Linked DNA regions of Homo sapiens. The protein of the gene in region 1 purifies or fractionates together with the protein of each later gene. This does not show direct contact. Each region holds a gene or a part of one and is shown in the gene's direction. Other genes may lie near its edges.

Evidence for each region.
Region 2: the proteins of SFXN1 (region 1) and DHODH purify together in Homo sapiens (affinity purification with mass spectrometry; one large-scale study listed by BioGRID and IntAct). This does not show direct contact.
Region 3: the proteins of SFXN1 (region 1) and HIGD1A purify together in Homo sapiens (affinity purification with mass spectrometry; one large-scale study listed by BioGRID and IntAct). This does not show direct contact.
Region 4: the proteins of SFXN1 (region 1) and TOMM70 fractionate together in Homo sapiens (co-fractionation; one large-scale study listed by BioGRID). This does not show direct contact.
Region 5: the proteins of SFXN1 (region 1) and ACOT9 fractionate together in Homo sapiens (co-fractionation; one large-scale study listed by BioGRID). This does not show direct contact.
Region 6: the proteins of SFXN1 (region 1) and NCAPD3 purify together in Homo sapiens (co-immunoprecipitation; one large-scale study listed by IntAct). This does not show direct contact.
Region 7: the proteins of SFXN1 (region 1) and CHCHD6 purify together in Homo sapiens (affinity purification with mass spectrometry; one large-scale study listed by BioGRID and IntAct). This does not show direct contact.

Annotation. Positions count from the first base shown.
Region 1 is NC_000005.10:175,506,060-175,509,559, forward strand, and holds part of SFXN1 (sideroflexin-1), read left to right. Parts: intron 1-2,972; coding exon 2,973-3,143; intron 3,144-3,500. UniProt on the Homo sapiens protein: Amino acid transporter importing serine, an essential substrate of the mitochondrial branch of the one-carbon pathway, into mitochondria.
Region 2 is NC_000016.10:72,022,244-72,025,743, forward strand, and holds part of DHODH (dihydroorotate dehydrogenase (quinone), mitochondrial), read left to right. Parts: intron 1-118; coding exon 119-232; intron 233-921; coding exon 922-1,075; intron 1,076-1,230; coding exon 1,231-1,390; intron 1,391-1,901; coding exon 1,902-1,956; 3' UTR 1,957-3,500. UniProt on the Homo sapiens protein: Catalyzes the conversion of dihydroorotate to orotate with quinone as electron acceptor. Required for UMP biosynthesis via de novo pathway.
Region 3 is NC_000003.12:42,784,950-42,787,490, reverse strand, and holds part of HIGD1A (HIG1 domain family member 1A, mitochondrial), read left to right. Parts: intron 1-1,328; coding exon 1,329-1,463; intron 1,464-2,170; coding exon 2,171-2,220; 3' UTR 2,221-2,541. UniProt on the Homo sapiens protein: Proposed subunit of cytochrome c oxidase (COX, complex IV), which is the terminal component of the mitochondrial respiratory chain that catalyzes the reduction of oxygen to water. May play a role in the assembly of respiratory supercomplexes.
Region 4 is NC_000003.12:100,398,290-100,402,534, reverse strand, and holds the start of TOMM70 (mitochondrial import receptor subunit TOM70), read left to right. Parts: upstream 1-1,445; 5' UTR 1,446-1,585; coding exon 1,586-1,909; intron 1,910-4,245. UniProt on the Homo sapiens protein: Acts as a receptor of the preprotein translocase complex of the outer mitochondrial membrane (TOM complex). Recognizes and mediates the translocation of mitochondrial preproteins from the cytosol into the mitochondria in a chaperone dependent manner.
Region 5 is NC_000023.11:23,733,277-23,736,776, reverse strand, and holds part of ACOT9 (acyl-coenzyme A thioesterase 9, mitochondrial isoform a precursor), read left to right. Parts: intron 1-760; coding exon 761-858; intron 859-2,409; coding exon 2,410-2,436; intron 2,437-3,500. UniProt on the Homo sapiens protein: Mitochondrial acyl-CoA thioesterase. Catalyzes the hydrolysis of acyl-CoAs into free fatty acids and coenzyme A (CoA), regulating their respective intracellular levels. Regulates both mitochondrial lipid and amino acid metabolism.
Region 6 is NC_000011.10:134,199,968-134,203,467, reverse strand, and holds part of NCAPD3 (condensin-2 complex subunit D3), read left to right. Parts: intron 1-269; coding exon 270-326; intron 327-562; coding exon 563-652; intron 653-3,500.
Region 7 is NC_000003.12:126,721,240-126,724,739, forward strand, and holds part of CHCHD6 (MICOS complex subunit MIC25), read left to right. Parts: intron 1-3,500. UniProt on the Homo sapiens protein: Component of the MICOS complex, a large protein complex of the mitochondrial inner membrane that plays crucial roles in the maintenance of crista junctions, inner membrane architecture, and formation of contact sites to the outer membrane.

The DNA of each region.
Region 1 (3,500 bases):
TGCCCGTCTCGGCCTCCCAAAGTGCTGGGATTACAGGCGTAAGCCATTGTGCTCGGTCCACATTTTCATATTAAGATAAATTCCAAATTCATTAAAAACCTAAATGACAAAAAGAAAACAACTATTCTGAGAATGCTAGAAATATCGGTGAACATTTGTATAATCTTTCTAGATAGAAACTTTATTCCTACCTGATTACATAAAAATAATAATTTTCAGGACAGCAGATAACACAACCAAAAAAATAAAAATTGGGGTTAATCGCAGTGTATAAAATACGCGTACAAATTACATAAATAACAATGATGCTGCTGTGGATGGTAATTTTTTAAAAAAAGACTAGTCAAGTAGAGAAAAAAGATAGAAGACATAGCCAAAGTTTTAATGTTGTACATAGCTTTTGTTCCAGCATATTTACTCATTTCTTTCAGAATAATCTTGGATGTGGGGATAGATTTATGTATGAGGGTTTATTTACTTCCTCATCCTTTACAAATGGAGTAAAATTAGAAGCAATTAATATGCCCAACACTAGGAGATTGGTATATATTACAGTATCTTATAATCATGTAGGAGAATACTATACAGTACTTAAAAAGTTGGTGTATTCATTTCTTTTTTTTTTGAGACAGAGTCTCACTCTGTTGCCCAGGCTGGAGTGCAGTAGCACAATCTCAGCTTACTGCAACCTCTGCCCCCCAGGTTCAAGTGATTCTCCTGCCTCAGCCTCCTGAGCAGCTGGGATTACAGTTGCCTGACACTGCACTGGCTAATTTCTGTATTTTTAGTAGAGACGGGTTTTCACCATGTTGGCCAGTCTGGTCTTGAACTCCTGACCTCGTGATCCACCCACCTTGGCCTCCCAAAGTGCTGGGATTACAGGCGTGAGCCACCATGCCCAGCCTATTAATTTCTTAAGGCTGCCATAACAAATTGCCACCAACTTGAGCCTCACAGTTATGGAGGCTCAAGGTCTGATATCAAGGTGTCAACAGGGCCATGCTCCCTCTAAGAATCCTTCCTTGGGGCTTCCAAGGTTCTAGAGGCTCTAGGAATGTTTTGATGCACCTTGGCTTATGGGTACATTGCTGTCATCTCTGCCTCCTTCATTACTTGGCCTTCTTCTGTGTCTGATTGCACATGGCCTTCCTATAAGGACACCATTCATTGGATTTAGGGACCACTCTAATCCAGTATGCCGTTTGGCATTTGAACTAATTGCATCTGCAAAGATCCCATTTCCAAATAGGGTCACATTCTGAGGTTGCAGGTGAGACATGAATTTTGGGGGAGACACTGTTCAACCCAGTATAGATTATATAGAAGAATATCTGAAGACAGAGAGAAATGTTTACAGTATATTACTGAGTAAAGAAGGTGGTTATAAAGCAGCAGGTCTGGTGTGATGCCTTTAAGTAAACACATCACATTTAGCTTCTAGAGGAGAGACTGAAAATACATGCATGAAAACATTACCAGTGGAGATGAGTAGGTAAAGACTTGAGTGATTTTAATTGCTCTAATGGATTCCTGTTTTTTCTCAATTTTTGACAATGAATACGTGCTTCTTTGATAAAGAGAAGAAGTAAAGAATGAGGCACCTAATTTTTTTTTCATCAAGAGTCTTCTGAGGCTGGGCATGGTGGCCCACGCCTGTAATCCAGCCCTTTGGAGGCCATGGCAGGCAGATCGCCTAAGCCCAAGAGTTCAGAACCAGCCTGGGCAACATGGTGAAATCCTGTGTCTACAAAAAATGCAAAAAAATTAACCAGGCATGGTGGCGCATGCCTATAGTCCTAGCTACTCAGGAAACTGAGGTGGGAGGATCACTTGAGCTCAGCAGTTCAAGGCTGCGGTGAGCTGAGATCATGCCATTGCACTCCAGCCTGGGTGACAGAGTGAGACCCTGTCTTTAAAAAAAAAAAAAAAAAAATTCTTCCTGAACTAGCTTTTCATTCTATAGGTATAAAAATGAATTAATATCCTTGATTACCATAACTTTTGTCTAATTGTTTAAAGTATTTTAGAGTTTACAAATTCAAAATACATTATAAAATATGTCACTTGAAGAATATTTCAAAATTGAATGCTTTCCTATTCCCTATATATAATTTCTTTTCTGGCTTTTCCAAACTACAGATAATTTGAGATGAATAGATTTGATTTTTTTTTTTTTTTTTTTTTTTTTTGAGAGGGTCTTTCTCTGCCCAGGCTGGAGTACAGTGGTATGATGACTGCTCACTGCAGCCTCAACCTCCCGGGCTCAAGTGATCCTCTTGCCTCAGCCTCCCAGGTAGCTGGGACCACAGGCATATGCCACAATGCCTGACTAGTTTTTATTTATTTTTATTTTTTTATAGAGACAGAGTCTCACCATGTTGCTAAGGCTGGTTTTGAACTCCTGGGCTCAAGCAATCCTCCTGCCTCAGCCTCCCAAAGTGCTGAGATTACAGGCATAAGCCACCGCGCCCAGCCTGAAATGTTCATTTTAAGTGTTTATTGTCCTGTATGTTTTGAAATTTTTACTGACTATATGTAACAAATTTGTCACTCCATCTAGGCACAAGTGTTTTAGGTGAGCATAAATTTTTTTTTTTGAGACAGAGTCTCGCTTTGTCACCAGGCTGGAGTGCAATGGTGCGATCTTGGCTCACTGTAACCTCTGCCTCCCAGATTCAAGCAATTCTCTTGCCTTAGCCTCCTGAGTAGCTGGGATTACAGGCGGGTGCCACCGCACCCGGCTAATTTTTGTATCTTTAGTAGAGACGGGTTTCACCATCTTGGCCAGGATGATCTCTATCTCTTGACCTTGTGATCCACCTGCCTCAGCCTCCCAAAGTGCTGGGATTACAGACGTAAGCCACCACACCCAGCCAGAGCATAAACTTTTAAAACCTTGTAGCCACTTGTCTCTAGGACACTGGGGAGATATTTGAAATGAGCAATTGCCATATTATTTGTTGTTTTCTTAGGCAAGGAATTGTTCCTCCTGGTCTTACAGAAAATGAATTGTGGAGAGCAAAGTACATCTATGATTCAGCTTTTCATCCTGACACTGGTGAGAAGATGATTTTGATAGGAAGAATGTCAGCCCAGGTTCCCATGAACATGACCATCACAGGTTGTATGATGACGTTTTACAGGTATGTTATGAATATGTAGCAACAGTGTGTTTACCATTACAGAAGCTCAAAGTATATTTTTGTATGTAAATAATTTTGTTGAAATAAGTATTATTTCATAAGTATATGAAGTGACAAACAAGGTAATTAGCTTGATTGAATCATTCCGTAATGTACTTATGAATCAAAACATCATGTTGAACTCCTTTAGTATATACAATAAAAAATAAAATTGAAGACAATAAAAAACAAAAAATGGGGTATTATTGATGTAAAAGAAAAGAAGTCATTTCACTTTTAGTTCCATTATGTTTGAATGTTGCTACTCTGGGACTCTTTTTTTTTTTAACCCTTCCCCTCTGCTAAATAGCATCTTCT
Region 2 (3,500 bases), on another chromosome or scaffold:
TGTTTCTGCTTTAGTTTGATCGCTATTGTGGAAACCCACTGACCTGCAGCGTAGGTCACAGCTGCACTGCAGGGCTGTGGTCTGCGGGGTCCCCAGCTCTGGCCGTGTGTCGCCCTAGGTGCTGCAGGAGAGGGATGGCTTGCGGAGAGTGCACAGGCCGGCAGTCCTGGTGAAGATCGCTCCTGACCTCACCAGCCAGGATAAGGAGGACATTGCCAGTGTGGTCAAAGAGGTTTGAGTCGGGGCCTGGGCCCAGGGTGTGCCTCCCATGGTCTGCAGAGGCCGTTTGGCCAGCTGGGCTAGCCCAGAATGGCGTTCTTTGTGATTTCCTCTCCTTGGTATTCAAGGCTGGTTTGGTGTGTGTCATGGTGTAACTCACCCTGTGGTCAAAAGCGAATGTTGGAATAAGTGCTTGAAGGAGTTTTTCTAATGCCTCTTCCTCTCTTTTGTCAACTGCATCCAGCAAGTTTAAGGCTTGAGCTTGGCTCCTTGGCCAGTCTTGACTGGGACTGAAAATTCTTTCTCTCACTCCTCTCTCCAGCCTGTCTGGACAGCGGGTCTCTGTGGCATAGGAGAGTAGTGGAAACAGACTGAGCCCGGCCATCGTGGGTTCAAATCCTGGTTCCACCACTTACTACCTGGGGGCCTCAGACAAGACACTGTAATTGGGTTGTTGTAAGGACTGGACCCTGTCCTAGGGGAATGTTGTGGGTGGTCAGCGTGTGATGGCTGCTGTCGTCATGTTATGGCTCATTCTAAAACTTGTTGAGGAAAAGATGAGTAGTGAGGTCTGGTGTAGCTCTTGCTTTGGGGGCTGTAGGTGTGGGTACCTGGCCCGGCTGCTGCCTTCGACCTCCAGAGAAGCGCCTCTGGGTCCTTCGGTGCTATGACTCATGGCTTTTTCTCTATCTCGCACTGCAGTTGGGCATCGATGGGCTGATTGTTACGAACACCACCGTGAGTCGCCCTGCGGGCCTCCAGGGTGCCCTGCGCTCTGAAACAGGAGGGCTGAGTGGGAAGCCCCTCCGGGATTTATCAACTCAAACCATTCGGGAGATGTATGCACTCACCCAAGGCAAGGTTTCCCGTGTTTGTGTCTTCAGATCTGCGTGTGGCTTGGGCTCCTGGGTCGTGATGGGAATCATCATTCCCTAATCTGTCTTGATTGTGGGGGACTCTGGGGCTGAAGCCACATCCTTCTTTATGGTGTCGCCATGTGCTTCTCTGTAGGCCGAGTTCCCATAATTGGGGTTGGTGGTGTGAGCAGCGGGCAGGACGCGCTGGAGAAGATCCGGGCAGGGGCCTCCCTGGTGCAGCTGTACACGGCCCTCACCTTCTGGGGGCCACCCGTTGTGGGCAAAGTCAAGCGGGAACTGGAGGCCCTTCTGAAGTGAGTGAGGTCATGTGTGGCTTGAAACAGAAGTTAGGCAGAGGTTCATTTAGATCACTCAAGTCAACGAGATACTGTTGATCTGTTTCTTATTCATTCAAAAAGGAGTTGAGGGGTACACTCTGAAGGGGAGAGAAATTCTGGGTTACTCTTTTGATGAAGGACAAACAATGCCAAGGAGAACTGAGGATTAACCTCCAAGGCAATGGTGTTTCTAAGGTGGAGTTGTCCATTTGCTCAAGGGAGGGGAGCCTGAGGAATCCCATCAGCATTCCCATTAATTAAGCAACACTGGTTCAATGTTGGGAGCTGTCAATACTTAAAAGCAATTTCCTTCCTGCTCTGTTCCTACCTGGGTAGAAATATCCCTAGGTCTCTGGGTGAAGAGTGTAGAGGAAACCAGATGTGCCTGGGCCGGGATGATGCGTTTCTGGGTGAACGTGGGCTTCCTGTAAGAGCAGGGCCTGTTCTCCACTGTTTGCTGAAATTGCTTTGTTTGCTCTTTTTCCAGAGAGCAGGGCTTTGGCGGAGTCACAGATGCCATTGGAGCAGATCATCGGAGGTGAGGACAGCGTCTGACGGGAAGCCTGATCTGGAACCTTCCCAAGGACTCAGGCAAGCCTTTGTGGCTGGATCATGAGAGGAGGGACTCCATCTTGAGCCATGTCCCCCAGCCATGGCATGGCTGCACTGTAAACGCCAATCGGGGGGTCACCAGGATCAACCGCAGGCTTTCTTCAGTCCCTTGGTCAGACCATAAACTGCATTTTTGATTCTTTGTGGATTCAAACCCTAGGATCCATCAGTCTTGCAAGGACATTGAATATTAGGAGGAAAAAGTCATGGAAAAAATAAAGCCATTTAGAACCTGGGTTTCAACGCTAGCCCTTTCTGGTTTGCCATAGGCCCTGCCAAGATACTGCAGGTCCATCCAGGCCTCTGCTATCTGCATCTGCAGTGGGCTTCCCAGGAACTTGACTGTCTTTCATTTGATCTTTATTTTTGTTTATTTAATATTTTAAACTTTATTTTAAAAATATTTCAAACATAAGGGCGGGGTGTGGTGGCTCATGCCTGTAATCCCAGCACTTTGGGAGGCCGAGGCGGGCGGATCACCTGAGGCCAGGAGTTGGAGACCAGCCAGGCCACCATGGTGAAACCCTGTCTCTACCAAAAATACAAAAAATTAGCCAGATATTGTGGCAGGCACTTTTAATCCCAGCTACTCGGGAGGCTGAGGCAGGAGAATTGCTTGAACCTGGGAGGCGGAGGTTGCAGTGAGCCAAGATTGCACCAGTGCACTCCAGCTTGGGCGACAGATCAAGACTCTGTCACACACAAAACAAACAAACAAATTTTCCCGTTTCTCTCTGTCCCTTTCTCTATAACATGGATAAAATATTCACGTCTTATGTATTTATTATTGCTGAGTCATTGGTGCCTTATTCTTCAGTGTTTCAGTCTGTATCTCCTAAGCATCCTGATGTTAGTTTTTTGACTATAAAATTGACCTGCATTCTTTACTAGCAATTCAAACGGTACAGCACTCTTGAAGTGTAAACATTCCTGTTCCTCCTCACCCCACTCTGCAGACATGCCTTTCTGTCTGTCCTCCCAGACTTTTCCCCTGCATAAAGATGTTCATTTTGTACATACACTCAGACATACATGTGGCTGTATTTTTTGTATACCGATTTCTGGATGGAATGCACACTGTTATCTGTTTAGTTACTTTATGTTTTCATACAAATGACATCATCCCACAAATAGAATTCTGCCATTTACTTTCTTCACTATTCTTATGTGGCATGGTTCATGCTGGGCCTCGGTCTTTTGAGTGGGGTCTGTTTACCCAGTCCCCTGTTGGTGATCACATCGCTAACTTCCGGCGTTTTCCTATCACCATCGGTGCCTCCGTGAACACCTTGTGAATGTGCCTGTGCCTTCGTTCTGGTGTCGGTGCAGAGCAGGGTCCAAGGGGCGTGACAGCTGGGCTGAGGGGCTGGCATGTTTCACATTCTGATAGATAGAGCCAAGTTGCTCCTATCAGGTTTTCAAGCTGCCCATTTCCCACCGTGGAGACAGCAACAGAGGGGACATCCCCAGCTCC
Region 3 (2,541 bases), on another chromosome or scaffold:
CCTCCCAAGTAGCTGGGATTACAGGCGCATGCCACCATGCCCGGCTAATTTTTTGTATTTTTAGTAGAGATGACCAGGCTGTTGGCCAGGCTGGTCTCAAACCCCTGATCTCAGGTGATCCACCTGCCTCAACCTCCCAAAGTGCTGGGATGATGGGTGTGAGCTACTGCTCCCAGCCCTAATTTTTTTTTCCTCCTTATGATTTGGAAGTTCTGCGGCTATTCTTACACTGCTTGCTGGTGGTTATCTTTACATTGTCAAACTAGGATGTGTTTTTTTCATCTATTTCCTGTATTAAAATGAATATAAATTTATTCCCTAAGACCTTTAGCACACGTTTTGTTGTGATAATCATAGCCTAATTTCAGATTCTTAATTTTGCTATATTATACCAGTCATTTTCAAGGAACCAGTACAGATTTTTCTGTCTTTATTGCTCACCATTATATCTTAACCATTATGTCTTTATTTCTTGAACTGTCCATTTTGACTCACTGTTTTTATTTGACTGGATATTTTCCTCTAGGTTTTTGTATCAGTACCTGGGTGGCAGCTTGGGAAAGACAGCCCTCCTGTAGTCCCAGTTATTAGGGAGGCTGAGCGAAGAGGATCACCTGAGCCTGGGAGAACAAGGCTGCAGTGAGCTATGATTGTGCGGCTGCACTCCAGCCTGGGCAACAGAGCAAGACCCCATCTCTTAAAAAATAAAATAATAAATCTTAAAAAGAAAACATGGAAGGTCATGTCCTGAATGCTTTTGCCCTCAAAATGAATGAGAGTTTGGCTCTGTATAGAACTCTAGGATCATAATCCTTTTAACTGAAACTAATATTGCTCTATTCTTTTCCTTTATTTACTTCTTCCCAGTACAATATCCCAAAGTTTGAAATATTCAGGCAATGTTTCTCAGTGGTAGTAGTGTGTAGGATTGTCTCTGGTATATTAACTGATTACCTTGAGGGAGGGAAATAGGACAGAGAGGAAATGGAATAAATTCATTCTCTAAGTCAAGACCTTTGGCACACTTTCGTTCTGATAATCATAATCTAGGTTCCTGTTAATTCCCTAGCAGTTTTTTAAAGGAGTTTATCTACTGGCCCCACAAACCCATGTTTTTAAAGATAATCCTGACTTTCTGGATCTGTTGTTGTTTGCTTAAAGATTTTTGGTTTTGATAGGGGAAAACATGAAAAACTCAATTTGTATGTTAGCTAATTAATGATCTGATAAAGAATCCTCATAAAAATAATAGAATGTACATTGACTGATGGTAAAGTCATCTTGGTCCCTTCTCATGCATCTGACATACTTGTTACTTTGTTTTACAGGAATAGCGGGTTTTGCAGCAATTGTTGCATATGGATTATATAAACTGAAGAGCAGGGGAAATACTAAAATGTCCATTCATCTGATCCACATGCGTGTGGCAGCCCAAGGCTTTGTTGTAGGAGCAATGACTGTTGGTAGGTTCCTATAGGAAATTTCAAATTTTCGTTTCTCATTAAGGTATTTCTTTACAAACAAAATAGGTAAATATTTTTAGCTGACCTTTTAGCAGTTGGAGAATATCACTTATACTCATTTTCATGTAAAAAATGAATTAATGAAGATAATTCAAGTAGTGACATAGTTTTTCTATGATATATCCTACTAAGATTTTAAAGAAAAAAAAAATCCTGTCAATCACTGAGTTTATAATTTCATTGAAGAGCCTAGACATGTAATTGGGGTTGATAGTAACATCTGTTATCTGGGAGAGACATACAATTGCTATTTTATTGTGTTTTTAAAGGAGAGATTCTTAAAGTTTAGGTATTACATGCTTCTTCTATTGGCTTTATAATTCATTGACTTTATCTGGTATTATGTAGCAAGAGTGATTCCTTTCAAAGTTACCAGATAAATATTGATTGTTCTTTCAAAGAAATATTGTAACATGTGAAGTAGCCATACCAGCCCTTTGCTACTTGGGAAACTACTGTATGTAACAAGAGTTTTAGAGATTTAAGATGTTTAAGAAGGCAAGAGTATAAGCTTCCTAGGGTCTTATTCCCCTTGTAAATATTCCATGCTAGCAGTGGTGCTACTTTCAGCTATTTTATGAACTGGTTTTTATTTTTGAATATTTAAGAAAATACTGAAATGCTTAACTAGCATTCTTTTTCTTTAGGTATGGGCTATTCCATGTATCGGGAATTCTGGGCAAAACCTAAGCCTTAGAAGAAGAGATGCTGTCTTGGTCTTGTTGGAGGAGCTTGCTTTAGTTAGATGTCTTATTATTAAAGTTACCTATTATTGTTGGAAATAAACTAATTTGTATGGGTTTAGATGGTAACATGGCATTTTGAATATTGGCTTCCTTTCTTGCAGGCTTGATTTGCTTGGTGACCGAATTACTAGTGACTAGTTTACTAACTAGGTCATTCAAGGAAGTCAAGTTAACTTAAACATGTCACCTAAATGCACTTGATGGTGTTGAAATGTCCACCTTCTTAAATTTTTAAGATGAACTTAGTTCTAAAGAAGATAACAGGCCAATCC
Region 4 (4,245 bases), on another chromosome or scaffold:
GATCAACTCAATTCCACTGCTATTTTTAGCCCATTTTTTTAGTCTGTTGCTAAGAAACCCTATTGCCTGAAGGCAATTTACTAATAGGAACTTACATGAAGCAGGAGAAACCGGTGATCCTGAAATTCTTTCCAATTAGGCCATTCTATTTTAATCAGTCCATTCTGGTGCCACTTGATAAAATATCTCCTTTCAATCTTTATGTAGCTCTACTGTGATGTTGTTGCACTTAACAGCAAAACAATCATTTATGAAATCTTAATGTAAGGCTTCTGCAAACCAGTATACCAGAAATGGAGAACCATAGTTCTGGACTCTGATTTTTCTATTAATAGTTGTCTTCATGAAAATACCGTGTATTCCAAACAATACCTTGCAAGGTAATTTTATATTTTAAGAGATCTGGTGCAGAGCATCGGAAAAAGAGTTGATAAAGCTATTATAGATAAAAAGCTGTGAACTGAAATTACGATTTGGGAATGAGACGAGAAGAGGGCTGAGACTGCTACTGCAAAACAACCCGGGGGGCGTGCGGATCAGAGCGAGATGTGGGCTGACGCAGAAATCAGCTCAAGATACAAATACGCCAAGAAAGGCTCGAAGCCGGCGGGAACCCTGACGCTTCGCATTTCTACCAACTCAGTTTAAGAAACCCCTAACAACGCAGATGTCATCGCTTCGTTAATTGGTGCCGACGATGAGCCACAGCGACCACGCTCAAACCGTTTCGACTGCAGCCAACCTAGATGTGCCATTTCCACCTAGTCTTCTGCCATCGCTATCTCCCCTATAACCTCAAATTCGTCCAAACTAAAATCTCGCTATGTTAGTGATAAGAAGTTCAGTGATGCAGCAGCCTTCTTCAGCGGTGAGCTCTTTCCTCACACATCTTTAAAAGTCCTTCTAATCCGTTGGTTTCTCGGGCACGCGGGCAGAAAACCGTGCTAACGGCCACAGAGGTTCAAGAGGTGCCAACGTGGCTATAACTGGAAAACTGGATCCGAAATCGACCAGTAAACTGGGTAGCTCGGTCTACGCCCCGCCCACCACCCTTGCTAGCCAATAGCCTTCACAACTCTTCTGCCACTCCCGCCCATTCCAGTGCTGTGCCGCTGCTTTTTCTTCCACTCGGATCTCTTGAGCGCCCTTAGCCCGCTGTATACGCGCCCCTCCTCGGCTTCAGTAGGCAAGAGGGCCATCTGCCCTTCTTTCCTGAAGGTAGAGGGGACAACACCAGCTACGACGGGGACTCCAGAAGTCCATCTCCCGAACAGCAGCGGGGCGAAAAGAAAGAAAAAGGGTTTCCGAAGACTCCTACTCACACCCACGCTTTCCCTTAACCCGGAAGTGATTTCCGCCCCTCCTCTCCCTCTTCGGTTGATACTGGAGGAGAAGGACGGCCAGGTCTGGCCCGGCATGCCCTGGGCTTCCGGTGACCTCTGGCCCTTTTCTGTCGTCCGCTCTCTCTGCCTAGCGTGCTCGCTCGCTCATTGCTTTCCTTCCCTCCCTCGGTCTTCCTTCGCACGCTGTTTGGTGATTGTGGCGCTCGCGACAGACAGGGAGGCGGTGGCAGAGGACACTTGTCATGGCCGCCTCTAAACCTGTGGAGGCAGCGGTGGTCGCAGCCGCTGTACCGAGCTCCGGGAGTGGGGTGGGCGGCGGCGGGACTGCGGGCCCGGGCACGGGGGGGCTGCCGCGATGGCAGCTGGCTCTGGCGGTCGGGGCACCCCTGCTGCTGGGCGCGGGTGCCATATACCTGTGGAGTCGGCAGCAACGGCGCCGGGAGGCCAGAGGCCGGGGCGACGCCAGCGGCCTGAAGCGCAACAGCGAACGGAAGACCCCGGAGGGCAGGGCCAGTCCGGCCCCGGGCAGCGGACACCCTGAAGGTCCCGGTGCTCACTTGGACATGGTGAGAAGCAGCCCCAGGCCGTAGAGGAGGAAACTGGCTCGTGCAGCTTTTCCTTGGCGGGTTGTGTCAGTGAGGGGGCTTCCCATCAGACGGAAGCTGCCAAGCGGCAGCACAACACTTGGGTTTAGGGAGACTCATTTCTGGCTGCCAGTGGAGGGCATAGAGTAGCTCGATGACAGGTTACTGGCATTCTTTGACAGTTTGCTTTTGGTTTCAGAAAAATCCTTTGCTTTTCTTCTCAGTGACACAGCATTTATCCCTAGTGTTGTAGATGGGAGTGGGGCATTTGCAAATGTGATGATTGTATTTAATAAGTGAAGGAAGCTAAATTCGATTAACAATTGGTACATCGTGATACGAACTGTTTCTGTGATTTCCAAAGCCTACAACCTAATCGCTAAGAGCCTTTTAATAATGAGCCACTCCCCCTTTTGGAGTGTGTTTTTGCTGGGGGTAAGTGGGCAACTACAGTGACGGTTAGTTGACAAAAGCAAAACAAAAACAAAAACGATTAGATGGCTTTCTACATAGAAAAAGAAAGACTACACAGGTTCTAAAGAGTGAAATGGTGTTCAGTGGCATTTGTTTTACAGCCTCTGAACTGTAAGCAGAACTGTCAAGCTCCCAAGGCTCGTCCTCTCTCAGCAACCCCGAAGCCCCCTTGGCTGCAAGCACTCAGCGCCCGTAACCTCTCCTGCCATGCCCCAGCCCCAAGGTGTCCTTTTGCACTCCGGACCCCTTGGCCTTTGTCAGAAAACGCTCTGCACTGCACTGTCCCCTCTTGCTGCACAAGAGTAGCGGCCACAGCAATGCTCACCAGGCTTGGTTGCACACAGCCCCCTGCCCCAGGTCCAGGCCTACACACACATACAAAAAAAAAAAAAAAAAAAATGGGAGTGACTTCTTAAACTTTTTGATTGGAAGCATCTTAAATTCAGTTTTTCCATTTCACCTGGAAATGTACATGACCAAGCCTAATATGCATGATACAGTTTCTCTGATGTGAGGCCAAGCATTGGATTATTTAGTGAACTGCTTTGTATGGTTTTGGTGAACTGACTGTTAAATCCTTTTGGTATCTGACAGCTGTGCAGAGAATTAGTCTGGCTGCATTTGACAATACTGGGATTGGGTGTGGTGGATTTTCTCTGGGTCTGGAGTTGTTCAATGGTAGTACCAGAGTAAGTCGAGGTCAGAGAAACGTTTGGTCAAATATCTCCCAGTTTTATACATAAGTATATACAGTTGGTCAAGTAACTTCTAATTGTATCCAAGTGTATACACTTAAATATGTATGCAAGTCATTTCCATATTATACTATTCAGGTTGAATTTTTTTTTTTTTTTTGAGATGGAGTCTCACTTTGTTGCCCAGGCTGGAGTGCAGTGGTGCGATCTCAGCTCACCACCACCTCCGCCTCCTGGGTTCAAGCAGTTCTGCCTCAGCCTCCGGAATAGCTGGGACTACAGGCGCGCGCCACCATGCCCCGCTAATTTTTGTATTTTTAGTAGAGACGGGGTTTCACTGTGTTGGCCAGGCTGGTCTTGAACTCCTGACCTCAGGTGATCTGCCCATCTTGGCCTCCCAAAGTGCTGGGATTACAGGCGTGAGCCACCGCGCCCGGGCGAAGATATTTTTACTAGGATGTCAAATTAGCTTTAAAGGAAGTTTTGGTGTAGGAATGAACAAACTAGTATCTGCAGTGTGTGAGGCATTGTGCTAGGCCATGAGAAAGCCATATGATCTTTCCTATGGGAGAGTGAAGCATTACCTATTTTCTAAAAGGTTTATGACTGGATAGTAGAAGAACTTATGGACTGTGTTAGAACTAGGATTTGTAAGCTTTATAGTGGGCTCTCCAGCATTGTCACTTTGGGAAAGTCATTTTGTCTCCTTGACCTTAGCGTCATCCCTGTAGAATAAGAGGATTAAAATATTAGATCTCTTCTGTTTCTTTCAGTACTAAAAATTGATGATTCTCATTATGATCATTTATAATAGCTCACTGCTGCTATTAAAAGTAGTTATCAAGAGGATTATTTGAATTAATTATCACTTGTCTTACATCAATTTTGGATGTCTGAAATTCTCCAGTCATTTTCTATTTCGTTTGTTAATTTAGTTTTAATCATGGAAGAATAGTAGGTAAAATAAAAGATCCAAAAAGTTCTCAGTTCTGTAAACATTAAAAATAAAGATAGTTTCTATACATGAAACTAAATTTTTTTTTTTTTTTTTTTTTGAGACAGCGTCTAACCCTGTCACCCAGGCTGGAGTGCAGTGGCACGATCTTGGCTCACTGCAACCTCTGCCTCCTGAGTTCAAGCAGTTCTCCT
Region 5 (3,500 bases), on another chromosome or scaffold:
TACAATCTTGGCTCACTGCAGCCTCGACCTCCTGGGTTCAAGTGATCCTCCCATCTGAGCCTCTTGAGTAGCTGGGACCACAGGTGCATGCCACCACGCCCGGCTAATTTTTGTATTTTTTGTAGAGATGGGGTTTTGCCATGTTGCCCAGGCTGGTCTTGAACTCCTGGGCTCAACCTGTCTACCTGCCTCAGCCTCCCAAAGTGCTGGGATTACAGGCCTGTGCCACCGTGGCCAGTAGATAGCTTTTATTTTATTGTGTTGGGACTCTAGAAAATTTCTGCGTAAGTTAAATAAATACTTTCTTTGCATCTGGAAAGGGCTAATTCAATTTTCAAAGTTTACTTTATAATTGGGTTTATCTTATTTATTGAGGAAATATGGTGCGATAATAAAGAACAGAATAAATTGTTCATAATGAGTTTGCTCAGTTGTTTACTAAATCGATTATGGACTTCTGAAACTAATAAAATAGAAAGACCAATAATAAATGCATTAAACCTAGTTGCCGTCTTTTATTTATTTTGTAGATAATTACCTAATTGGTCTCTGCTCTCAAGAAATGTTTACTCTAGTGGGAGAGATGATTTATGGAATAGCCTCATGAAAACATACATATACTTGTGAAACAGCTACAGACTCCTACAAGACAATATATACTAAGGGTGATATGGCCAGATACTCTGGGAGGAGGGTAGGTCTTTAGGGTTGCCAGGGAAGAAGCTGTGGGATCTGCTCTGTGTTTTATCTTGTTTTATAGGCTTTGTGCCTTGGGCAAAGGGCAGCTTACTCCTGGAAGAGGACTGACTCAAGGACCCCAGAACCCCAAGAAACAGGGAATCTTCCACATTCATGAAGGCAAGCATGGTGTCTCTGTTTGATGCCTATGTGGTGAAAAACCTTGTTTTACTTTTATTTGAAAGGTATATAGAGTGATAGTTTAGAGCAAATGAGGCATATTAAAGGTAGATCTTTCATAAACATTTCATTGACAAAATGACCAGGATAGCTGCATAATATTAATAGCTTCAGATAGAAGTCACATTCAGATTTTGAACTATTGTTCCTGGGAGCCTTGAGGACTGAGCTCTTTTAGTTAGGTGATTTCCACTTCCTGTGTGTAGGTTCTGAAGGCATGGAAAAAAAGAGATGGGCCCATTAGTTGTATCAAGTAAACACTCCTAGTCCATAGTTATGTTCGAGGGATCCTGTTAGTCCATGCTTAATTAAAGTTAATTTCAATTACCAATATGATACGTAAACTATGGATTGTCTTTATTAAACTAGGAGTATTCGTTATAATTAAAATTGCGGCTTCTTTAAAGGGTCCAAATAAATTTATATTATGTGTGTATATAAATATATATGTAAGTAAAATTAAAAAGTTTTTCCTTCTTGGCCCTCAATACTTGCCTCTCTTCTTACACTGATTAAGCTAGTAGTAATTATTTTATGTCAGTGAGCATCAGTAGTCCATGTACTATTTGAGGTACTTTCTGTCCATTCTTTTTTTTTTTTTTTTTTTTTTTTTTTTTTGGGATGGAGTCTTGCTCTGTCACCCAGGCTGGAGTGCAGTGGCAGGATCTCGGCTCACTGCAACCTCTGCCTCCCTAGTAGCTAGGATTACAGGCATGCTCCACCACGCCCAACTAATTTTTGTATTTTTAGGAGAGATGGAGTTTCGCCACGTTGGCCAGGCTGGTCTTGAACTCCTGGCCTCAAGTAATCTGCCTGTCTTGGCCTCCCAAAGTGCTGGGATTACAGGTGTGAGCCTTTTTTTTTTTTTTTTTTTTTTGAGATGAAGTCTCACTCTGTCGCATAGGCTGGAGTGCAGTGGTGGGATCTTGGCTCACTGCAACCTCCGCCTCCCAGGTTCAAGTGATTCTCTGCCTCAGCCTCCTGAGTAGCTGGGATTACAGGTGCCCACCATGCCAGGCTAATCTTTGTATTTTTAGTAGAGACGGGGTTTCACCATCTTGGCCAGGCTGGTCTTGAACTCCTGACCTCATGATTCACCCACCTCGGCCCCATCCATTCTTTTATTCAAGGAACTTAGGAGGAAAAAATCAGAAATAAGACTAAGTTACTAATGGTTGTTGTTTGCAGTTCTCTAACATTTAGTTGTAATTATACATCAAATTTATGGTGTATCCAAAATTGTTTGATAGAAAAATCAACCATTTTTCATGAAAGTTAAAATGCATGTTCATATAAATTATATTTGGTTTTGATCAGTTAGTTATTGAAGGACTGAGGATTGCTATAGTTAATTTCCTATAACTGGAATGTATATTTTGAAGTGCTAGGAAAAACACATAAACTCAACACAGTATTTGAAATACTACAGATTTATCTTTTAGTTTTGAATTATTGCTGGTTCTCTAATTGATTTTCCCTTTATTCATATAGCATGTTCATCTATACATGTGAATCATGGTGTGTGTGGTAATTAGTATCAGCTTTTCTTTTAAGAGCTTAAATTTTGTAAGCACTAATATACGCTTGCACTTTTGGGCAGTGGCATTAACTAAAATTGCATTCTTTGCCTTAGCTTGATGTAAGTCTTTGCTTCATTTTTCTGGCTTAAACTTTTCTAACAACCAGGAGACTATAAATATATGAGAAATTAATTATAATGAGACTCAGATTTGGATATTAGTATTAGTCTCTGAACTAAGTAATTTGATCTATTACTGCGTATAAGAAGATAGGTGGGGGCCAGGCGCAGTGGCTCACACCTGTAATCCCAGCACTTTGGGAGGCCGAGGCAGGCGGATCACCTGAGGTCAGGAGTTCAAGACCAGCCTGACCAACATAGTGAAACCCCATCTCTACTAAAAATACAAAATTAGCAGGGCATGGTGATGCCTGCCTGCAATCCCAGCTACTCGGGAGGCTGAGGCAGGAGAATCACTTGAACCCGGGAGGCGGAGGTTGCAGTGAGCTGAGATCGTGCTATTGCACTCCAGGCTGGGCAACAAGAGCGAAACTCTGTCTCAAACAAAACAAAACAAAACAAAACTACAAAAATTAGCCGGGTGTGGTGGCACAGCGCCTGTAATCCCAGCTACTTGGGAGACTGAGGCAGGAGAATCGCCTGAACCCGGGAGGTGGAGGATGCAGTGAGCCGAGATTGTGCCACCGAACTCTAGCCTGGGTGACAGAGTGAGACCATCTCAAAAAAAACAACAAAAAAGAAGATAGGTGGGAATCCTGTTCATATCTCCATCATAATGGCTCTTACTGGCTAACACTGATACAGCCCCATTAAGTGAATAATTGAAGTTATCCTTTTTTGTTTGTTTATATAAACCCTAGTGATTGGCACAAAGGTATTCATTTGTGCACCTTTAAAGAGACAGTATAGTTCTTTCAGGTTTTTAGGGAGCAGAGGCTTGATCCTGTCCCTGAGCTGTTTGTTGTGGCATTAAATGGAAATCTATGGATCTTTAAATCTTTTGAGTGCATGAATTGCTTTTTGTAGTTCTTGAGCTCATTGC
Region 6 (3,500 bases), on another chromosome or scaffold:
AAGGCCTTTTAAAAGTATTTCAGATGTTCATATCTGAGAGGTGACATTGGTGGCTACCTTTACTGTTGCTTTGCATTGGTGGGCATTGGTCGTATTAGGATGAATCTCCGTTTCAATGCATACCCAAGGAGAACGTTATCAGTTGTCAGCAATTTAGAATCTGTCTGCCTTGTCTTTGAGCCTAATTATCTTGATTTTGATTCCTCCGTGGATAATTACTCAGTTTATGATACTGACTTCTTCCTTCTTATCTTTCTTCTTGTTTTTAGGTCCTACGTTTTCTGTAATAGAGAGTCACCCTGGTACCTTACTGAGAAATTCATCAGGTAATGGATCAATACATTTTCAAATATTGAATGATTATCTTTTAAAAATTTGTGGAATATTTAAAATGTTTTTCTTACCTCCTTATTTACCTGCTTTAACATTGTACTTTTTTCATGAGAGAGGTTGAAATTCATTTCAGTAATAATGTTGTAACTTAAATGAGTAACATGCCCTGCTAATGTTATTAAAAGTATAACACATTTTTAGCTTAATGACTGTAATTTTTTTTTTAAAGCTTTTTCCTACCAAAGGCAGACATCTAACCGTTCCGAACCCTCAGGGGAGATCAACATAGACAGCAGTGGTGAAACAGTTGGATCTGGAGGTATGTCAGATTTTATCACTGTCAGATAGGTAATACTGCTGGATTTCAGACAACCGTAAGTAGAGTCTAAAACCTTGGATTTTTTTTTTTTTTTCTGATTTATTCACCCCTAAGAGTTGAAACAGCTGGCTGGGCGTGGTGACTCATGCCTGTAATCCCATAATCCCAGCACTTTGGGAGGCTGAGGCCTGCAGATCACTTGAGCCCAGGAGTTCAAGACCAGCCTGGGCAACACATCAAGACCCCATCTCTTAAAAAATATATATAAAAATCAGCTGGGCGTGGTGGTGTGCCCCTGTGGTCCCAGCTACTCAGGAGGCTGAGGTGGGAGGATGGCTTGAGCCCAGGAGTTCCAGGCTACAGTGAGCTCTGATCATACCACTGTACTCCAGCCTGGGCGACAGTCTGTTTAAAAAATTAAAAAATGAAAATAACACTGCAGGGCAGTCTGCTTTTTTGTACCAGCTTAGTTACTAAATAGCTGCATGATCTAGGGGTATACCTGTCGTTTTCCGGTTGTAACACCCTCCCATCTTTCCCAGACGACTGTTGGGAAAGTCTGTAGAAACAACATTTAAGAAAGTGATTTAAAGAGAGAGAGACACAGATAAGAGAGAGAAAGAGCATGTACGTAGAGGATTAATTACATAATTGGGTTTATTAATTTATTCAATAAACCTTGATCTGGTCCTTCCCGATGCGTTCCAGGCATTGGAGATGCACAAGTCTGTGAGACAGAGCTCCATCTCTTAAGGATCAGTGGAGAGACAGGTGCTTGTGCACACAAGTGTTCTCATATATACAATTGTGCACACATGTATGCGGAACACTGAGATAGGTGCCGAGATGCACAGAAAGCGCCCTGAGGATGATTACATTACTGCTTTTATTATTCAGCCTAGAAGGTCAGCGTGAAATTGGGTTCAGGAGGCTAGATATTAGCATGTATTACTCCAATTCAGAGCGATAACTACATTTATAATAAACAGGTTTTCTAAATGTGGTAGGAAAATGTACTCTGGAAAAATGCTGAATGTTTGTGTTGGCTCCAGACTTCGTCTAAACAGGTTACGGATTTACGGTGGCACAGACTTTTTCAAGCAATATCAAGTTGAGGTGATTTAATGATGCTTAAAAATTATGAAAGTTCGGGGACGCAAAGAGCCCATGTTTCCAGTGCATTGTTCATAAGCTGAAAGGACATATATTGTTGGCATTAATTGTACATTAAAAATTTTGTATAGTCACTTAGATGCACTTTGCTCTCTTTGCTTTTTCTTATTAAGGCAGAGTTCACACACCATAAAGTTCACCATGGAAAGTGTATAATGTAGTTGTTTTAGTATAGTCACAAGATTGTACAGACTAATTCCAGAACATTCCATCAGCTGAAAAATAAACCCCATAGCCATTAGCAGTCACTCCCCATGCCCCTTTCCTCCTAACACTGGCAACCAGTAATTTTCTTTCCTTATAAAATTGCCTATTCTGGGCCAGGCGTGGTGGCTCACACCGGTAATCCTGGCACATTGGGAGGCCGAGACGGGAGGAGGATCACGAGGTCAGGAGATCGAGACCATCCTGGCCAACATGGTGAAACCCCGTCTCTACTAAAATACAAAAAATTAGCTGGGCGTGGTGGCACACACCTGTAGTCCCAGCTATGAGGAGGCAGAGGCAGGAGAATCGCTTGAACCCAGGAGGTGGAGGTTGCAGTGAGCCGAGATTGCGCCACCGCACTCCAGCCTGTTGACAGAGCGAGACTCTGTCCAAAAAAAAAAAAAAAAAATTGCCTATTCTGGACATTCCGCATAAATGCAGTCATGTACTGTGTTGTCTTTTGTGTCTGACTTCTTTCACCTATAGCGTGTTTTCAAGGCTCATTCATGTTATAGCATCTATCAGTACTTCATTCCTTTTTGTGCTGAGTAATAGTCAGTTATAAGGATACACCACATTTTGTTTATGCATTCATCAGTTGATGAACATTTGGGTTGTTTTCACTTTTTGGCTATTGTGACTAATGCTGCTGTAAGTATTCTTGTATGAGTTTTTGTATAGATGTGTGGTTTCATTCCCTCTGAGTGTATACCTAGGAGGAGAACTGCTGGGTCGTATGGTAACTCTATATTCAACATTTTGAGGAACCACCACACTTTTTCAAAGTGGCCACACCATTTTACAATCCTGCTAGCAACGTATGATAATCCTATTTCTCTGCATTCCTACCAACACTTGCCATGTCTGTCTTTTTTATTTTAGCCATCTTTGTGGGTATGAGGTGGTATCTGCTTGTGGTTTTGATTTACATTTCCCTAATGGCTAATGATGTTGAGTAAATTTTCATAGGCTTATTGGCCATATACATACGTTTTCTTTGGAGAAATGTCTATTCAAGCTCTTTGCCCATTTTTTAATTGGGTTATCTTTTATTTTTGAGTTGAAAGAGTTATTTTTATATATATACCTTATCAGATATATGATTTTTAAAGACTTGTCCCAGTCTGTGGGTTGTCTTTTCAAATGGTATTCTATGAGGCACAAAACATTTTAATTTTGATGAAGTCCAATTTATCTTTTTCTTTTTTTACTCATGCTTTTGGTATCACATAGCTAAGAAATCGTTGTGTAATCCAAAGTCACAAAGATTTACTCCTGTGTTTTCTTCTAAGGGTTTTATAGTTTTAGCTCTCACATTTAGGTCTTTGATCAATTTTCAGTTAATTTTTGAATATGGTGTGATATAGGGGGTCCACCTTCACTCCTTTGCATGTGACTATCCAGTTGACATAGCACTGTTTCTTTCAGCCTGTTCCTTCACCTGTGAGTGTCTTGGCACCCTTGTAAA
Region 7 (3,500 bases), on another chromosome or scaffold:
TCCAAGCTTCCTTCTGTGCTGGCTTCATCCAAGTCCTTCCACCCCACGCCTTCCAAAGTGAACCTATGGCGGCAGGCGCACGGTCTCTTCCTGTCTGTGCCTCTTCCCCGGTGCCCTGCCCTAGGCTATGAAGCTTCTGCCTTCTGCAGACATCGCTGCCGTCCCGCCCATGGGATGGAGCTTCTCCTGTGTCTAAGTCTGCGCCTGCCTTAGGGAACCCATCCCTCTCTTGGCTGCTTCCGGCCACTGGAATCCCTCCTTGTGCTGTTCTCATTGACTTCCTGTCTGGGCTGCTTCTCTTTGTTTTTGGTGTTCTCTCCCTTTTTATTTGTAACAGCTTTATTGAGATGTGATTCACATGCTGTACAATACATCCATTTAAGGCATGTGATTTAATAGTTTTTAGTGTATTCACAGGTATGTGTGACCATTGCCACAATCATTTTTAGAACATTTTCATCACCCCCACCCCCCACCCTCCCCACCAAATCCTACTTACCCTGTAGCTATCAGTCCCCACCCCGGTCCCTGCATTTCCCCAAGCCCAAGGCAGTCACGAATCTACTTTTGTGTCTAGAGATTTGCCTGTTGTGGAATACGCCACACAGTGTGGCCTTTTGGGTCTGACTCCTTTCACTTAGCGTAGTGCTTTCAAGGTTTCTCCATGTTATAATGTGTCAGTAGTTCATTCCCTTTTATGGCTGAATAATACTCCATTGTATAGATATACTTCATTTTACTTATCCATTCATTGGTTGATGAACATTTGGGTCCTTTCCATTTTTTGGCTATTACAGATAATGCTGATGTGAACACATGTTTTCATTTGTCTTTGGTGTACAATGAGAAGTGGAATTGCCATATCAAGTGGTAACTCTCCATATCCTCGCAAATACTTATTATAATTTGACTTTAAAAATTTATTTATTTATTTAGAAACAGAGCCTCACCTGTTGTCCAGGCTGGAGTGCAGTGGCACAGTCATAGCTCGCTGTAACCATGACTTCCTGGGCTCAAGCAATCCTTTTGCCTCAGCCTCCCAAGAAGCTAGGACTGTAGGCATGTGGCACCACACCTGGCTAATTAAAAAAAAATTTTTGTTTTTTAGAGAAAGGGCCTCACTGTGTTGCCCAGGCTGGTCTCAAACTCCTGGTCTCAAGTGATCCTTTTGCCTCGGCCCTCCAAAATGCTAAGATTACAGATGCGAGCCACTATGGCTGACCCTTACACGTTGACCTTTTAATTATAGCCATCCTCGTGGGTGTGATGTGGTACCTTATTGTGGTTTAAACCCGTGTTTCTCTAGAGACTAATGATGTTGAGCATCTTTTCCTGTGCTTATTGACCATTTGTATATCTTCTTTGGAAAAATTTCTATTTAGATCCTTTGCCCATTTTTAAGTAGGATTATTTTTCATTTTATTATTCAATTCTGGAAGGTGTTTATATGTTTTAGATAAAAGTTCCTTATCAGGTATATGATTTGTACATATTTTCTCCCATTCTGTGGGTTGTCTTTTCAGTTGCCCTATGGTGTCATTTGGTACTCAAAACTTTAAAATTTTGAAAAAGTCCAATTATTTATTTATTTCTTTCATTGCTCATGCTTTTGGTGTCATCTCTAAGAACGTATTGCCAAAGCCAAGGTCATAATGATTTAGCCCTCTGTTTTCTAATAAGAGTTTTATAGTTTTAGCTCTTAATGTTTAGGTCTCGGATCTGTTTTGTATTAATTCTTGTATATGGTGTAAGGTAGGTGTGCAACTATATTATTTTGCAAGGGATATCCAGTTGTCCCAGCATCATTGGTTGAAGAGACCGCTCTTTCCCCACTGAACCATCTTGGCACCCTTGTTGAAATCAACTGACCATAGAGATAAAGGTTTCTTTATGGCCTCCTTATTCCCTTCCATTGATATGTTTGGTCTTCTCTTGTCATATGTCATTAACTAGTTATTTGATTGTATATATCTTAAATACTACAGGGACTCTATTATTATTATTATTATTACAATCTTTTGTTACTAAGGAAATGTTCATGGTAAAAAAATTAAGATGCAAAAGTTCCAAAAGTGAAAATCCTGCCCCAGCTGCTCCTGTCCCCACTTTCAGGACCTCATCCTCTGAGTACTTTGCTAAGCAGTTTTGTAGATTTCTCCTTGGAGCAGATCTGTATATGTGTCTTATGTGCATGCATGTGAAATCCAAATGCAGTTCACACTTGCGGATATGTGTATATGCATATATTCAAATTCAGCAACATTTATATTTGTATGTCTGCATTTTTTTTTGCAAAATTGAGATGTGCAAAAAATTCTATGACTTTTTAAACAATCAGCAGTATATCTCATGTGTTTTCCGTGACAGTGTATGTGTATTCTACCTTGTTCTTTCTTAATGGTTCCATAAAATTCTATAGGATGTATATGCCGAAATTTTCTCAGTCAGTTCTCTATCTGTTGGATGTTTATGTGATTTCCTTTTCTTTTTTCCCTATTTCCTCCGGTGTCACAGTGAGTGTCCTTCCACATGCCTCTGTGTACATGGGGGAGTAGTTTTCTCAGTGAGATATTCTGGAAGTGGAGTTGCTGATCATGTCTTTTGTCTTACAGTAATTTTTAATGTCTTTCCCTCCGCTGTGTTTTATGATGCCTTGCACATATTAGGCACTTAATAAATATTTACTAAAGTGAACTCTTAAGGATTTTTATCCTGGATTGATCCCCAGCTTGCTGTTTCATCTCAGTAAACTGTTTTATGACACCCTTAGGCCTATTTCACATCCTCTAAATGAATGAGAGTTTTGGTTATCCAGTCTTCATTAGGGGAACTGAGGTGAAATTAGTCAAGCAGTATTTGATTATCTACTGTATGTGTGGCACTGGAGGTGTACAGAGATGAGTGAGATTCAGGCTTAGCCCTCAAGGTATTTAAAAACCATCAGGATAGGCAGGCAGGAGGTGTAGTACTTCTCTGAGAAGCACATGTGTGTTGTCAGGGGGCTCAGAGGAAGGGAAAAGGTGATACTGGCACACCTGGGAGATGGTGCAGACGTGGCTCCAGATACCACAGTACAGTGGACATCAAAATAAAGCAAATCATGAACTTTTTGGTTTCCTAGTGTATATAAGAGTTGTGTTTACACTATATTGTAGTCTCAAGTGTACACTAACATTATGCCTAAAAAGTGTATATACCTTAATTAGAAATACTTTATTGGCAAAATATGCTAATGATCATCTGAGCCTTTAGTGAGTCATAATCTTTTTGCTGGTGGGGGGTCTTGCCTCCTTGTTGATGGCTGCTGACTGATCAGGATGGTGGTTGGCTGTGGCAGTTTTGTAAAATAAGACAACAATGAAGTTTGCCACATCGATCAACTCTTCCTTTCACAAAAGATTTCTCTGTAGCATACGATGCTGTTTGATAGCATTTAACCCATAGTGGAGCTCCTTTCAAGATCGGAGTCAGTTCTCTAAAACCCTGCTGCTACTCTATCA